Homo sapiens: one gene and its partner. The protein of the gene in region 1 purifies or fractionates together with the protein of each later gene. This does not show direct contact. Each region holds a gene or a part of one and is shown in the gene's direction. Other genes may lie near its edges. The genes, in order: MCEMP1 and JOSD2.

Region 1 (7,410 bases):
GGCTGGGGACCCCTGTTCTAGTGGGCAAAAGCCTCAGCATCCCCCGCCTCAGCTCCCTGGGGCACAAATTCAGGTGATTCGGGGTCCAGTTCTACAGGAAGCCTGACCCAGGAGTCTTGCCATCCAGTCCCTGATTTCCCACCACAGACTTCAGAATTCCTAGCACCTAGTCTTGAAAGGGATCCCAGACTCAAATGTCACACCTGGACAACAGATGATAGAGTGAGGTTCTGGTTTGCAGGATGTTTTGGACTCTCCTCCCACTGCCACCCACCCCCTGTGATGGTCCCAGCCCCCTGTCTGATGCTGGTGGCCATGAGCAGAGATTACAACCACTTCTGGTGCCAGGGACCCCACCCAGACTCCAGCCCAGGGATTCCCTTCCCAGACCCTCTCTCCTGACTCCACAGTGGTCATGGGGGTAGGGCAGGACCACTGAGTTAGAAGCATGGCCAGGGCCAGAGAGGGTGAGTCTAGTGCCTTGTGTGTGTCCCTGCCCCTTACTGCTGTGTGTGTGTGTTGGGGGCGGGGATGCTCCATTGTCCCCAGAACTATTTGTCTCCACCCCCATCCAATAGTCCTGTATCTGAAACCTAAGAGGGCTCTCTTCAGGTTCCTCAATTCCAACATAGACATTCTCCTGCCCCAGAGTGCAGACTTGGAGGTCATATCTGCCCAGGTGATGTGGACAGGCAAACCCCCTATTAGAGCCTCAATTTCCTCAATAGCTAATGCCTAGATCCCCTGTGGTAGGCAAGATATCCTCCTCCCTCCTCCCTCCTCCCTCCCTCCTTCCTCCTCCTCATCCTTCTCCTCCTCCTCCTTCTTCTTCTTCCTTTTTGAGATGGAGTCTCACTCTGTTGTCCAGGCTGGAGTGCAGTGGCACGATCTCAGCTCACTGCAACCTCCACCTCCAGGTTCAAGTGATTCTCCTGCTTCAGCCTCCTGAGTAGTTGGGATTGCAGGCGCCCACCACCACTCCTGGCTAATTTTTGTATTTTTAGTAGACACGGGGATTTCGCCATTTTGGCCAGGCTGGTCTCAAATTCCTGACCTTAAGTGATTCACCTGCCTCGGCCTTCCAAAGTGCTGGGATTACAGGCGTGGGCCACAGAGACCAGCCAAGGCAAGATTCTTCTGCTTGCAAGTACAACAGACCCCACTTCAAACTAGCTTGGGCAAAACTAAAAGGAAGTTTCTTGTTTGTGTAACTGACAAGCCCAGGGTTAGAACAACAGGTTCAGGTATGGCTTGGAACCAGGGTCTCAAATGATGTCTCCAGGACCCAGACTTCCTCTCGGGTCTGATTTTCTCAGCACTGCCTTTGCTCTCAAGTAAATTCTTCCCTGTCACAGCTCCCATTACATCCTCCCATTGTGGCAGCCCTAGTGAGGGCTGGAAAAAAAAGAGAATGCTTTTTCCCCCGTGGTTAAACCAATAAAAATCCCAGACCAGCGTTTCATTGGCTGGATCTTGCTCAAATGCCCGCCTCTCTGCCCAATCTTAGACTCTGGTTGGCTGGGTCTGGATCATTTGTCCACTGTAAACCAATCCCTAGCTTATGGTTTGCTGGATCTAGCACACATTTTCTTTCTTAAAAGAAAATTGAGAATGTTACCCTATGAAAGGGACGGGTGCTGGTCAGGCAGCTTTGCAGATGTTTCCCACATGACATGATTGCTTGTGGGCCTCTGGTTTAGCGTGACCTTTTTCTCAAAGGAAGTCCAGAGCCTGGAGCCGCGTCTCAGCCCCACCCAAGCCCGGGAAATGTGCAACGCTGTGGCTCCACCCCCTGTGCCTGTCCATCAAGGCAGAGCCCACATCCAATTGGTCCGTCTGCTCCATTAGAAGGCGGTCCTATAGCTCAGTAACTGACTTCTTTCTAAGACCAAATGGAGCAGCTGGCATGAAGTCATTATCAAATTGATCTTTCTTGGAGACACAGGATTTGGCAATATTTTAGGAAACAGAACTTTATCCTCACCAGATCTCGACGCTCATTTCTCAACATTCAAGTTGTCTGAAATTTAACCACATATTTTTAACCAAAACATCATCACTTTCTGCACATAAGACAGTCTTATACTTGTTTTTTCTTCTTTTCTTCTTCCTTCCTTCCTTCTTTCTTCTTTCTTCTTTTTTCTTTTTTTTTTTTTTTTTTTGACGGAGTTTTGCTCTTGTTGCCCAGGCTGGAGTGCAATGGCGCGATCTCGGCTCACTGCAACCTCCACCTCCCGGGTTCAAGTGATTCTCCTGTCTCAGCCTCCCGAGTGGCTGAGATTACAGGCGCCTGCCACCACGCCCAGTTAATTTTTGCATTTTTAGTAGAGACAGGGTTTTATCATATTGGTCAGGCTGGTGTCTCTAACTCCTGACCTCAGGTGATCCGCCCGCCTCAGACTCCCAAAGTGCTGTGATTACAGGCGTGAGCCACCACACCTGGCCAGAAAAAAATAAAAATAAAAATGTATGCCTGTAATCCCAGCACTTTGGGAGACCAAGGCTGGAGGATCAGTTGAACCCAGGAGATCAAGACCAGCCTGGACGGCATATTGAGACCCTCATCTCTACAAAAAATAAGAAAAATTAGACTGGGCCACGGTGGCTGATGCTTGTAATCCCAGCACTTTGGGAGGCCAAGGCGGGTAGATCACGTGAAGTCAGGAGTTCGAGACCAGCCTGACCAACATGGGGAAACCCCGTCTCTACTAAAAATACAAAATTAGCCGGGGGTGGTGGTGCATGCCTGTAATCCCAGCTACTTGGGAGGCTGAGGCAGGAGAATGACTTGAACCTGGGATGCGGAGGTTGCAGTGAGCTGAGATAGCGTCATTGCACTCCAGCCTGGGTGACAAGCACAAAACTCCATCTCAAAAAAGGAGAAAAATTAGCCAGGTGAAGTCGTGCCCACCTGTAATTTCAGCTACTCGGGAAGCCGAGGACGAAGGATTACTTGAGCCAGGGAGGTCAAAGCTGCAGTGAGCCATGATCACGCTGCTGCACCCCGGCCTGGGCAACAGAGTGAAACCCTGTCTCAAAAAAAAATTATTAAAAAACATTTAAAGAGACAGGGTCTTGCTATGTTGCTCACGCTGGTCTCAAACTCCTGGCCTCAAATGATCCTCCTACCTCAGCCTCCTGGGTAGCTGGGACTACAGAGCGAGCCACCATACCCAGCTACTTTGTGCCTTTTGTAACCCCAGTTTTCAAGATCAGATAAACACAAAGTGAACTAAGACACCTTCTAGACAGAGTGCGGGCATGTGAACGCATGCTTGTGTCTATTTTTCTGAGTGTCACAATGCAAATAGTATGCAAATGAGTTTGTGATGTGTGTCCGTGTGCAGACCTGTGTGTGTACATGTGTGAGAGAGAGTATCTGGGTAGATAAGCAGATGGATGGATGAGAATGAGAAACCTGGAGTTTCCAGGTGCAGAGGAAACTGTTCCTCCAGGGTTCTTTTTTGAGACAGAGTTTCCCTCTTGTCACCCATTCTGGAGTGCAATGGTGTGATCTCCGCTCACTGCAGCCTCCGCCTCCCAGGTTTAAGCGATTCTCCTGCCTCAGCCTCCTGAGTAGCTAGGATTACAGGCGCTCGCCACCACGCCCAGCTAATTTTTGTATTTTTAGTAGAGACGGGGTTTCACCATGTTAGCCAGGCTGGTTTCAAACTCCTGACCTCAGATGATCCACCCACCTCAGCCTCCCAGAGTGCTGGGATTACAGGCGTGAGCCACCGCACCCAGCCTCCTCCAGGGTTGTATAAAAGCAGGGGATTTGGGGAGGGAGGGAAGGATGTGGGTCTGTCCTCAGTCCCAGATGTGGGTGTGGCGTTCCAGTGGTTAGTTCCCGTTGCCTCACATCTGTGCTTTTCCTCCACGGGGACTTGTAGAAGTAGAAGAACTTCTTGGGGGTGGAGCTGAGGGGTGGAGCTGAGGCTGGAGGGAGGAAGGTGTGGGGGGACCCAGGGGTCCTGTCTCCAAGCCTGGTTGCTCTTACGCGAAAAGTTGGGACACTGAGGTGTCACAGCTTCTCTTTTGAAATGGAGAGGAGGTAGGAGGGTGAGGTCCATCCAGGTAGACACAGACACACACAGAGACCACAGCTTCCTGTAACATTTCCGAGTGTCGAATTCCATCTCCCGGTCTAGAGGTTTTTCTTCTTGGTCCTTCCTGAGACCTCTTGGCTCCCAAGAGCCTCTTGATCGGGGCAGGAATGAGGGTGCCCCAGGGTGCGAGAGTCGTGGATCCCTGAAAAGAGGAGGCTGCTCCCCCTCTTTCTTCCCCCCACCTCCAGATTTCCTCATCTGCCCACACCTTCCGGTGGGCGGGGACGTGTATGGACAAATTTGCGGGCTGGGGACCATGGAAGTGGAGGAAATCTACAAGCACCAGGAAGTCAAGATGCAAGCACCAGCCTTCAGGGACAAGAAACAGGGGGTCTCAGCCAAGAATCAAGGTTAGGGAACTCGAGGTGGAAGGGAGGGGTTAAGAAGGAGAGATTGGGGGGCCGGGGGCTTTTGCTCATGTCTGTAATCCTAGCACTTTGGGAGGCTGAGGCGGGAGGATTGCGTGAGCCCTGGAGGTGGAGACTGGCCTGGGCAACATAGGGAGACTCTGTCTGTAAAAAATAAAAATAAAAAAAGAAGGAGAGTTCAGATGGGAGAGGTAAGGGGTCAAAGGTGGGGGCCGGGGGCTCCTTCCCCTCCAAGATGTGTGGATGTGTGTGTGGATGTGTGTGTGGTGTGATCACTCAAACTCTCACACACCCGCTCCACTTAACCAAAAAGCAGATTTTAGCTTCTCACTCCTTATCTTTCACCCCCTACAATTTATTGAGTGCAAAGGGTTGGGTAAAACAAGATCCCGGATCCACTCTCCACACCACAGAGCTCTGAGCAGATCTCCAACCCCTCCCAGGTGCCCATGACCCAGACTATGAGAATATCACCTTGGCCTTCAAAAATCAGGACCATGCAAAGGGTGGTCATTCACGACCCACGAGCCAAGGTGAGCAGACACCCACCTGCTCACATCCCATCACCTTGGGAAGGGGCAGGTGGGCGGGCAACTGCAGGGCCCCCGGGGCTGCGTGGAAGGGAGGAAGCGATGGGGAAGGAAGAGGTGACAGCTGTTGACGTGCTAATGAGGTCTGTTGATGATGACAATGTTGGGGAATGCTGGAGAGGGGGTCTGTGATGGTGACGGTGTTAGATCGCTGAGGGTGGCTGGTGGTGGCAGTGTTGTTGACGATGATGACAAGCTGCATGACCACAGCTGCTGATGGTTTTGAGAGGAGCGAGGTGTCCATGGTGTTAGAGACAGTGAGGATGGTTTGAGTGGTGGTGCTGGCCCCTCAAGGTCACTTTGCTGCCTCTTTGCTCCAGTCCCAGCCCAGTGCAGGCCGCCCTCAGACTCCACCCAGGTCCCCTGCTGGTTGTACAGAGCCATCCTGAGCCTGTACATCCTCCTGGCCCTGGCCTTTGTCCTCTGCATCATCCTGTCAGCCTTCATCATGGTGAAGAGTGAGTACTTCTTGGGAGGAGGGTGCTGGGGGGCCTAGACTTTCTCCCTTGTCCTTCTCTCTCTCTCTCCCTGGGTGCTTCAAGGATTTTCCTGCCCCTCCTGAACAGATGCTGAGATGTCCAAGGAGCTGCTGGGCTTTAAAAGGGAGCTTTGGAATGGTGAGCGGAGGGTCTGAGGGAGACCCGTGGGGTCATGGTGGGGGTCTGGAGAGGGATGGATGCACAGACACCCCTGTTTCATGCCCTCAGTCTCAAACTCCGTACAAGCATGCGAAGAGAGACAGAAGAGAGGCTGGGATTCCGTTCAGCAGAGCATCACCATGGTCAGGAGCAAGATTGATAGATTAGAGACGACATTAGCAGGTGCCTGTGTAGTCTCGCCTTCTATGGGGGTTATTTGTCACCAATGCCCGGAGCTGAGCTGGGGGCAGGGGATTCAGGGGAGGAGAAAGCCGGGGTCCTACCCTCCCAAAGCTCAAGTTGTGGAGGGGCGATGGGTGTTACCATCTGGGTTGCTCTGTGGGTATTGAAAGGCTCCTGGGAACCCCAAATCCATGGGCTCTGCTGTACCCCAGGGTGGGTGTGGGGCAGGGGGGGTGCTTCCAAGGAAGGTGGGGGCTTTGTTTGAGGCTCCACCGCAGCTTGACTTATCTGTTCCCACCCAACCCTCCCCGCCCCCTAGGCATAAAAAACATTGACACAAAGGTACAGAAAATCTTGGAGGTGCTGCAGAAAATGCCACGTAAGTTGGCGCCCCGACAGGAGGTGGAGGAGGGTGGGTGGGGCTTCAGATTTAGCCCCAGCTCCTCTCCCAGGGGCGGGATCTGCCTCACTGTGGGTCTCTCCCCATCCCCAGAGTCCTCACCTCAATAAATGAGAGGACATTGTGGCAGCCAAAGCCACAACTTGGAAGATGGGGCTGCACCTGCCAACGAAGACGGGAAATGACCCCCCCCCCCCAGCCTAGTGTGAACCTGCCCCTCGTCCCACGTATAGAAAAACCTCGAGTCATGGTGAATGAGTGTCTCGGAGTTGCTCGTGTGTGTGTACACCTGCGTGCGTGTGTGTGCGTGTGTGCGCGTGTGTTCGTGTATGTGCGTGTGTGCGTGCGCGTGTGTGTGCATTTTGCAAAGGGTGGACATTTCAGTGTATCTCCCAGAAAGGTGATGAATGAATAGGACTGAGAGTCACAGTGAATGTGGCATGCATGCCTGTGTCATGTGACATATGTGAGTCTCGGCATGTCACGGTGGGTGGCTGTGTCTGAGCACCTCCAGCAGATGTCACTCTGAGTGTGGGTGTTGGTGACATGCATTGCACGGGCCTGTCTCCCTGTTTGTGTAAACATACTAGAGTATACTGCGGCGTGTTTTCTGTCTACCCATGTCATGGTGGGGGAGATTTATCTCCGTACATGTGGGTGTCGCCATGTGTGCCCTGTCACTATCTGTGGCTGGGTGAACGGCTGTGTCATTATGAGTGTGCCGAGTTATGCCACCCTGTGTGCTCAGGGCACATGCACACAGACATTTATCTCTGCACTCACATTTTGTGACTTATGAAGATAAATAAAGTCAAGGGAAAACAGCGTCGCTATGGGACCTGTTACTGGGGCAAGGGGAGGGGTTTTGGGACCTGGGGAGAGGGAGAGTCTGCACGTGACAATGACCCCGGGGCACCAGGGTGGGCGAGACTGAGTGCCCTGCGTGAGTACCTGTGCATCTGTGAATGAGTAACTCATTCCCTGTGTCTTCCCTGTGTCCCAGAGTGGGTGCCCCTGAGCATACAACATCTCCCTGAGTGTACCTGGGACCACGGATATATACAAGCCCTAAGCGTGTACCCACGTGTGTAATTGTGCCCGTGAGTGTATCTATGCCATTGA
Region 2 (8,123 bases), about 43 Mb from region 1:
CCGCGCCTGACCGTTTTCTTTGTTTGTTTCTTTGTTTTTGAGACAGAGTCTTGCTCTGTTGTCCAGGCTGGAGTGCAGTGGCACAATTTCAGCTCACTGAAGCCTCTGCCTCCCAGGTTCAAGCGAATCTCCTCCCTCAGCCCCCTGAGTAGCTAGGATTACACGCGACTACCACCACACCCAGCTAATTTTTGTATTTTTAGTAGAGACGGGGTTTCACCATGTTGGCCAGGCTGGTCTCGAACTTCTGACCTCAAGTGATCCACCTGCCTCAGCCTCCCAAAGTGTCGGGACTATAGGTGTGGGCCACTGCAGCCTGCCTAACCTCCCCTCTTACAAGGACAGAGGTCAGACTGGACCAGGAGCCTCCACCTCCAGTATAACCTCAGCTCCATCCTTGGCAAAAACCCAATTCCCAAATAAGGTCCCATTCTGAGGCCCTGGAGGTCAGGACTTCTGCGCTTCCCTTTCTGGGTGACAATTCAACCCACAACAGGGCCCAATCCAGAGTGTGTCTCTCCACTGCAGACCCCCTCAAGGCTGCTCCAGAGGACGGGGTGCCGAAGGGGAGGGAGGCCAAGCGGGAGGCTGGGCCTGCGGCCTCTGGGGCACAGCAGCTGTATTTCTGGCCGGTTCAGTGGGAGGCTGGAGGGCCGGATCGGGTGGGCCTGGGGCGGCAGGGGCACCACAGTGCCACTCAGAAGGGCAGGAGCAGAGCCCTGGGAGGGCAGGGAGCAAACCCTGAGCGGGCCTGGCTGGGGGGTTGCTGGCACAGTGGGCAGCTGTTGGGTGGGTTGGGGGAGGGGGTGGTGATGTCTCTTGGGGGGTCAAGGTGCCCGAGTTGCAGGCCCTGGAGGGCTGGGGCTGGCCAGGGCTGCCATCTCACGCTGCTGGGGGAGGCAGAGGGAGGGACGGAGCCATGCAGGGCCTTCCAGTGCTTTCCCACGCTGAGGTGGCTTCGGGGACACAGCCCTGAGGACACACAGGCCTGCGCCCAGCCCCCTTCTCCCCTCGTAGTGGCCCAGGCTGTACCCCGTACACGGCAGCTATGGGCACTATGGGGACACTCAGGCCCCAGCAGGAGTCAGAAGGTAGAGATGGCGGGAGGCCCCCCACTTCCGTGAGGTGCCTGGCCCCTGCCCCCTTCCTGGCTCTGTCTACACCCAGGCATCTCATCTCTCCCACACCGGGGGCTCCTGGCTCTGGAAGCCAATTCCTCCCTTATCAGCAGCGGCAGCCTTTGGGTGCCACGTCGGGGTCTTGGCCCCTCTCTGTCTGCCCGCGTCTGTCTCCTCTCTCCTCCCGTCAACTTGGGGCTCTCGCCACCCAGTGCCCGCCCCCCCCACCCCATGCTCCCGTTCACGCTCTCTTTCTCTCCAGCCTCCTTCCAGCGCCAATCCTGGTTGCCATGGAAACACTGCAGCGGGTACCAGGTGGTGGCTGGGGGCAGGGAGCCTGCGCTGCCGCAGCCTGCGCCATTTCCGATGCCAGGCACCCTCAAGGCACAGAGGCTGGGGCTCATGTTGGGGGCACTTGGCCTCTCCAGGCCTCGAAGGCTTCTCCTGGGCTGACGCGAGCTGGGGAACGGGAGGGACGGACGTGGGAGCGAGAACGTCACACTGGAGGCAGCTGGTGGCACGATGGGGGACAGAGTGAAAGGTAGCAAGTCAAGGTGAACTGAAGGATGATCAGAGCGGAGGGAGGCTGTGGACAGGGGCGGAGGCTGTGGGAAGGGGACCCGTGCTGCGCAGCGGGGCTAGGGAGGTTGGACCCGCTGAGGCAAGGGCACATTGAGGAGAAGCCACAACCAGGGCTCCCGCTGCCTCTGGGAGGGCTAGGGCCACGGCCAGGCTGAAGCCTCCCTCAGACCTTAGCCGCCTGAGGACAAGGAGGAGAGGTGAGCACGAGGGGACAGACAGAGCCCAGAGTCCCTGTCACCATCTCTTCTCCCAACCCAAAGCAAGATGCAGTTTCCATGACAACCTGGCCGGCCAGAGAGGGGGCAGGGGACTGCAGAGGAAACTTTCCACATCAGCAGGGAGAAAGAGGGTGTGCTGCAGGGGAAAGGGGGGCACGCAGGGTTCCCAGAACCCCCGGTCACCATGCTCACTGTGCTGGACCCGGGAAAGTGGACAGAGCACAGGGAAGGGTTCTCCCGCCTCCACTCCCGCAGGCCCACGCCCCCACGCTGGGCCTGCGGGGAAGGGGGAAGACTGAGCCCAGAGGCTCAAGGGTCAGATGTCCAAAGAGCAGCGGCTGCCCAGGCCTTGTGCAGCGGGCAGCGAGCAGCCCAGGGAGCCAGGCCCCAGACACCGCACTCAGGGCCATGGCCGACAGGGGCCCGTGGAGGGTGGGCGTGGTGGGCTATGGCCGCCTCGGTGAGTCCCTGACCATCCTTGGCCTCCTTCCCCAAACCCCTTCCTAAAGCTCCCAAGACTCTCTGCCCTCCACAAACACTTTTTTCTCTCTCTATCTGCCCCTGGCTGTGTCTCTGGGTCTGCCCACTGCACCCCCACCCCAGGTCTCTGTCCTCTCCGTCTCTGTCTCCCTTCTCTCTGGGCCTCTGTCCACCCCACTGTGTCTCTGCCCTGCCCCCATCTCTGTCTCCCTACCCCGCAATCTGAGTCTGTCCCCACCTCCTCTCTCTCTGGGTCTCTGTCCCCACCTCCTCTCTCTCTGGGTCTCTGTCCCCCTCTCTCTGGATCTCTAGCCCTCTCCTTTCCCTCTCCCCAGGACAGTCCCTCGTCTCCCGCCTCTTGGCTCAGGGACCAGAACTTGGCCTAGAACTTGTTTTTGTCTGGAATCGTGACCCAGGACGAATGGCAGGGAGCGTGCCCCCTTCCCTGCAGCTCCAGAACCTTGCTGCCCTTGGGGAAAGGTCAGTGACCTTGCCATGGGAGAGTGGAGCTCCCTGAAGCTCCTGTCCTGGCTCTCTTAGCCACTGTGTGATCTCAGGGGTTCCCTGACCCTCTCTGGGCCTTGGTTCAAGCAAATGTGAAACAGGACGAACCCATTCATCTCATTTCGCCTCCCAGGTCAGGGAGAAGAAGGGCAGCCCTCAGTAGACTCGGAGGGAACCTTGGGGAGAAGAGGCCTAATACCTCTCCAAGACCCTCCGCCCTCTTTCCCCTCTCCCAGGCGCCCTGATCTGGTTGTGGAAGTGGCCCATCCCAAAATAATCCATGAATCTGGGGCACAAATCCTGCGCCATGCCAATCTCCTGGTAAGCCCCACCCCAACCATTTACGCAGAGCCCTGCCCCTTCTGTCTTGGTCTCACCCCACCCTGAAGTGGATATCCTTCCCTGACCTCAACCCTCCCCTCCTTCATCCACCCCAGGTGGGGTCCCCCTCAGCTCTAAGTGACCAGACCACAGAGCGGCAGCTCTTGGAGGCCTCACAGCACTGGGACCACGCCGTGTTTGTGGCCCGAGGGGCCCTGTGGGGCGCTGAGGACATCAGGAGATTGGATGCAGCTGGGGGCCTCCGGGTGAGGCCTGCTGGGCTCCCCAGGAACCAGGGGAGGCCTGCAAAGACCCCACTCCCCCTAACCCGGGCTCTTGCTTCCAGAGCCTTCGTGTCACCATGGCCACACACCCCGATGGCTTCCGGCTTGAGGGACCCCTGGCTGCAGCCCACAGCCCTGGGCCTTGCACTGTGCTCTACGAAGGCCCTGTCCGTGGGCTCTGCCCCTTTGCCCCGCGAAATTCCAACACCATGGCGGCGGCTGCCCTGGCTGCCCCCAGCCTGGGCTTCGATGGGGTGATTGGGGTGCTCGTGGCTGATACCAGGTGAGCAGAGCTAAGCAGGGTGTTGGGCTGAGTCCAGGCTCTCCAGACTGACTGCCCCTCTTGTCCCAGCCTCACGGACATGCACGTGGTGGATGTAGAGCTGAGCGGACCCCGGGGCCCCACGGGCCGAAGCTTTGCTGTGCACACCCGCAGAGAGAACCCTGCCGAGCCAGGCGCGGTCACCGGCTCCGCCACCGTCACGGCCTTCTGGCAGAGCCTCCTGGGTGCGGCCAGGCCCCTCTCCCCCGGCCCTGGGCTCCTGTGTTCTGCAGAGCTTGGGGGTCCCGGGCTCTCACTAGTTCTGCAGTTCTGGTTCTGTATTTGTTGACCTTTCTTTCTTTCTGACCTTTATTTCCTTAACCTCTCTCCATGACTTTGAATCCTGGCACTGTAGATGTCTCCATTTGTGCCCGCCTCTGATCGAGACTCTCTCTGTCTCTGTCCACCCCCAGGGCTCTGTCCCGCTCTCTCCGGGTCTTCCTCCACCGCCCCCCTGCCCTGTCCCCTCCTCCCACCACTGCCTCCCCCAGGCGTCTGTCTCCTCATCTCTCCTCTGTCTCATTCGCTCATTCCCCTCTCCCCGCAGCCTGCTGCCAGCTCCCCTCCAGGCCGGGGATCCATCTCTGCTGAGAAGCCTCCTCCCTCCCGAGACAAGATCATCTGCCTGGCCTCTCACCACCACCATCCCACCCCTGCCCTGCCCCACTTCCCCAGGGTCTCCCTTCTGACTCAGTAAAGATCACCGCTGCCTCCCCCCGCACCGCCTGGCGTCTCTGATCCCTTTCCCTTGTGTGACGTCACGCTGCGTCTGCGCACCGCGCATGACGCCATCGCCGGGGGCGAGCACCCATGAGAGCGCGGCGCCAGGAAGCTATCGCGAGAGCCTACCTACTAAGTTTCCTAGAATCTCTGAGCAGTAGTGGGCGCGGCCGTATGCGAAAGAAGGGCCTCTGAGGCGCACTTCCGGGACCTGCCGCGGAGCCCGACGGAAGTTGTAGTGCGGCATTTCCTAGGCCCGACGGCCGACTTCAGGGCCACGCGGCCCGGGCGTTCCGTGTGGAGCAGGAGTCCCGCGGGGCCCCACGGGAGTCGTAGTCCGGCGCGCGGGGATCACCGGGAGCTGTAGTCCGTCCCGCCTGCCCAGTCAGCGCGGTGTTGCCCGCCCCGCACTCGGAGCCCAGAGCCGCCGCCCAGGAAGGGGATGCGGAAACCCCTGGCTCGGTGGAGCGGAGAGGCAGGCGGGGTGAGGGGCGTTGCCAGGCAAAGGGCGAGCGCCGTGGCTGGGGTGCGGGTCGGCGAAGGGCTCCATTCCTTGGTGTCCGGGGAGGGGGCCTGGTTGCTGGGTGATAGGAAGAGGAACTCCTGTTGCTTAGTGACTGGGGAGGGGGCCCCGTTGCCAGGTGACAAGAGCAGAGAGCCTCGCTGCTACATGACCGGGGAAGGGGAGTCTTCTGTTGCTAGGAGACCAGAGGGGACCCTATCACCTAGAGACAGGGGAGGAGGATTCTCTATTGCTAGGTGCTCGGAGGACAGACTTTGTTACCTAGTGCGGTGGGGAGGGGGCTTTGTTGCTAGGTAACCACAGAGCGCCCTGGTTACCTAGGGACGGGGAGGCAGGTTCCTCTGTTGCTAGGTGACCATGATAGGGACCCTTTTACTTAGAGACCTGGTGAGGGTGGTTTTCTGTTGCTAGGGGAGCAGAAGAGACAGCGTTTTTCGTAGGAATAGGAATAAGGGATGGAGGGACGTGTGCTGCCAGGAGACTGCCAGGGAGCGGGGTCAGGGGCCCAGTGTCTTCCTGGGCTGCTCCGAGTCCCAGCTCAATCAATGGCGATGCCCCAAAGGCCTGCTGGGAGGCTGGACCTCTAGATCCCGGGCCCCTGAGGACCTTCTCCCCCTCCCAACCCCCAGCAGGAGCCGAGGACGGCATGTCCCAGGCCCCGGGAGCACAGCCGAGCCCACCCACCGTGTACCACGAACGGCAGCGCCTGGAGCTGTGTGCTGTCCACGCCCTCAACAACGTTCTGCAGCAGCAGCTCTTTAGCCAGGAGGCTGCCGATGAGATCTGCAAGAGGTGACCGTCACCCACCCCAGCCCCTGGAGCAGCAGAGCTCTGGCGGAGTGACCCACCTGGGTCTCGCCGCCAGGCAGGCGCTGAGCCTTGGGGGCTTTCTTCTGCTCCGCGCTCACTTGCCTAAGCTAGACGCTGGGACTCTGGGGAGATGTTGCCTCCTGTGCCTGTCTGTCCCTGTGGCCTCAGCCCCAGCCAGACCTCAATCCAGTGGTTCTTTCTTTTTTTTTTTTTTTTGAGACTGAGTCTCACTCTGTTGCCCAGGCTGGAGTGCAGTTGCGCGATCTCGCTCACTGCGAGCTCGGCCTCCCGGGTTCATGCCATTCTCCTGCCTCAGCCTCCCGAGTAGCTGGGACTACAGGCACCCGCCACCACGCCCGGCTAATTTTTTGTATTTTTAGTAGAGACGGGGTTTCACCATGTTAGCCGGGATGGTCTCAATCTCCTGACCTCGTGATCCACCCGCCTCGGCCTCCCAAAGTGCTAGGATTACAGGCGTGAGCCACTGCACCCGGCCCAGTGGTTCTTTCTTTAGAGACAAGGTCTGGCTGGTCTTGAACTCCTGAGCTTAAGTGATCCTCCCACCTCAGCCTCCCCAGTAGCTGGGATTACAGGCTCACCCAGCTTCAGGCATCTCTTATCTGGGCCCTGTCACAGCTCTCCAGTCCATCCTAAACACGCCCCCGCCCTACTCAGGGCCCTCCTCATAGCGGAGGCCGAGCCTGCCTCCGCATCTTCAGCCCTCACGGCCCCCCTCAAACCAGACTCTCCACTCCCGTGAGCCCTTCTGTGCGGCCTCTGGGCTTCCAGGTACTTCTTTCTGCCCGGCATGGCTTCCTTCTCTGCCAGCATGGAATGTTCCTCTTCACTATTCACAATGTCCAACATCACTCTTTGGCCGGGCGCAGTGGCTCACACCTGTAATCCCAACACTTTGGGAGGCTGAGGCGGGTGGATCACTTGAGGTCAGGAATTCCAGACCAGCCTGGCCAACAGGGCGAAACCCCGTCTCTACTAAAAAATAAAAATAAATAAAAAATAAAATTAGCTGGGCGTGGTGGCACATGTCTGTAGTCCCAGCTACTCTGGAGGCTAAGGTGGGAGAATTGCTTGAAGCTGGGAGACAGAGGTTTCAGTGAGCCGGGCAACAGAGCAAGACTGTCTCAAAAAAAAAAAAAAAAAAAATCACTCCTTTACCATCTCTCACTCCCTCCTCTCTGTCCCCATGTCCCTGGCCCCAGCTCAGGCCTGACCCTCTCCTGCCCAGCCTGCCCATGGCCTCCAGTCTGTCCCTGCCTTCAGTCCCCACTTGATCCTAGAGAGTCTTTCTACACCTGGAGATGGCCCTGCCTCCCCTGCCTCTTGCTCCAAGCCTCCTCCGGCTCTCGGACATCTTAAGAGTCCCAGCCCCTCAGACTGATTATTATGGTATTTAGTCATCTCCTCTATCATTCGCAACAAGGACCCATCAGCTCTTTCATACAAAAGCCATGCTGGAGACCCTGAGATGACTCAGACACAAGTGCCAGCCTAAGGGTGGTGAGGGAAACACACACACACACACACACACACACACACACACACACACACGAGCGTTTTCCTCCCATGTCCTGCCTGCCCAGGGTCCAGATAGGGAACAGAGGTGCAGCTGTTCAGAGGCAGGGCCCAGAGACAAGTGGTGACAGGCGGAAGAGCCTTCCTAGGCAGGGGAAGAGCTGGAGGAAAGGTTGGCGGGGGTGGGGCGGGAGGCGGTGGGCACCGGGGATGTGGCTGGGGACAGGGGACCAGGAAGGAGGGTGCTGAGGCTCTGAGGTGAGGCCACCAGAGCCAGACCACGCAGGGCCTTGTGGGACTCTGTCCTGGGGGAAATGAGGCAGCAGAGTGGGCTGTGAGCAGGGGAGGGGTGAGGGCAACCCCGTGGGAGAAGCAAGCAGTGTTAAATCAGGGTGATGCGGGCAGCTGTCATCGTTGAGGTGGCTCAGTTCACTGGGGGAGCCCAGACAGGGCCCCGATCCAGCCTGGAGGTCAGGAGGCTCCTCTCAGAGGACGTGACATCTGAGGTGGGCCTTGAAGGACAGAGGAAGGGACTGGCGGAGGGACAGGGACTTTGTCCAAGGCATTGGGGAGCCATGGGAGAGCTGAGAGCAGGAGAGGGCCAGGGCCGTGTGGGAATGGACTGGAGGGAGGCTGGAGGCTGCGGGAGAAGACAGAGCCCATCTGGGGCCTTGGGGACAGGGCAGAGTCAGGGCAGGAGAGACAGGA

Evidence for each region.
Region 2: the proteins of MCEMP1 (region 1) and JOSD2 purify together in Homo sapiens (affinity purification with mass spectrometry; 3 studies listed by BioGRID and IntAct, with this or other methods). This does not show direct contact.

What each region holds. Positions count from the first base shown.
Region 1 is NC_000019.10:7,672,717-7,680,126, forward strand, and holds MCEMP1 (mast cell-expressed membrane protein 1), read left to right. Parts: upstream 1-4,373; 5' UTR 4,374-4,404; coding exon 4,405-4,459; intron 4,460-4,920; coding exon 4,921-5,010; intron 5,011-5,387; coding exon 5,388-5,525; intron 5,526-5,633; coding exon 5,634-5,684; intron 5,685-5,774; coding exon 5,775-5,888; intron 5,889-6,207; coding exon 6,208-6,267; intron 6,268-6,381; coding exon 6,382-6,398; 3' UTR 6,399-7,113; downstream 7,114-7,410.
Region 2 is NC_000019.10:50,508,027-50,516,149, reverse strand, and holds the start of JOSD2 (josephin-2), read left to right. Parts: upstream 1-4,958; 5' UTR 4,959-5,033; exon of another isoform or gene 5,034-5,075; intron 5,076-5,701; 5' UTR 5,702-5,718; coding exon 5,719-5,864; intron 5,865-8,123. Other genes in the region: ASPDH (aspartate dehydrogenase domain-containing protein), read left to right, coding at 1,049-1,659, 3,139-3,223, 3,340-3,489, 3,570-3,790, 3,860-4,014, 4,377-4,420. UniProt on the Homo sapiens protein: Cleaves 'Lys-63'-linked poly-ubiquitin chains, and with lesser efficiency 'Lys-48'-linked poly-ubiquitin chains (in vitro). May act as a deubiquitinating enzyme.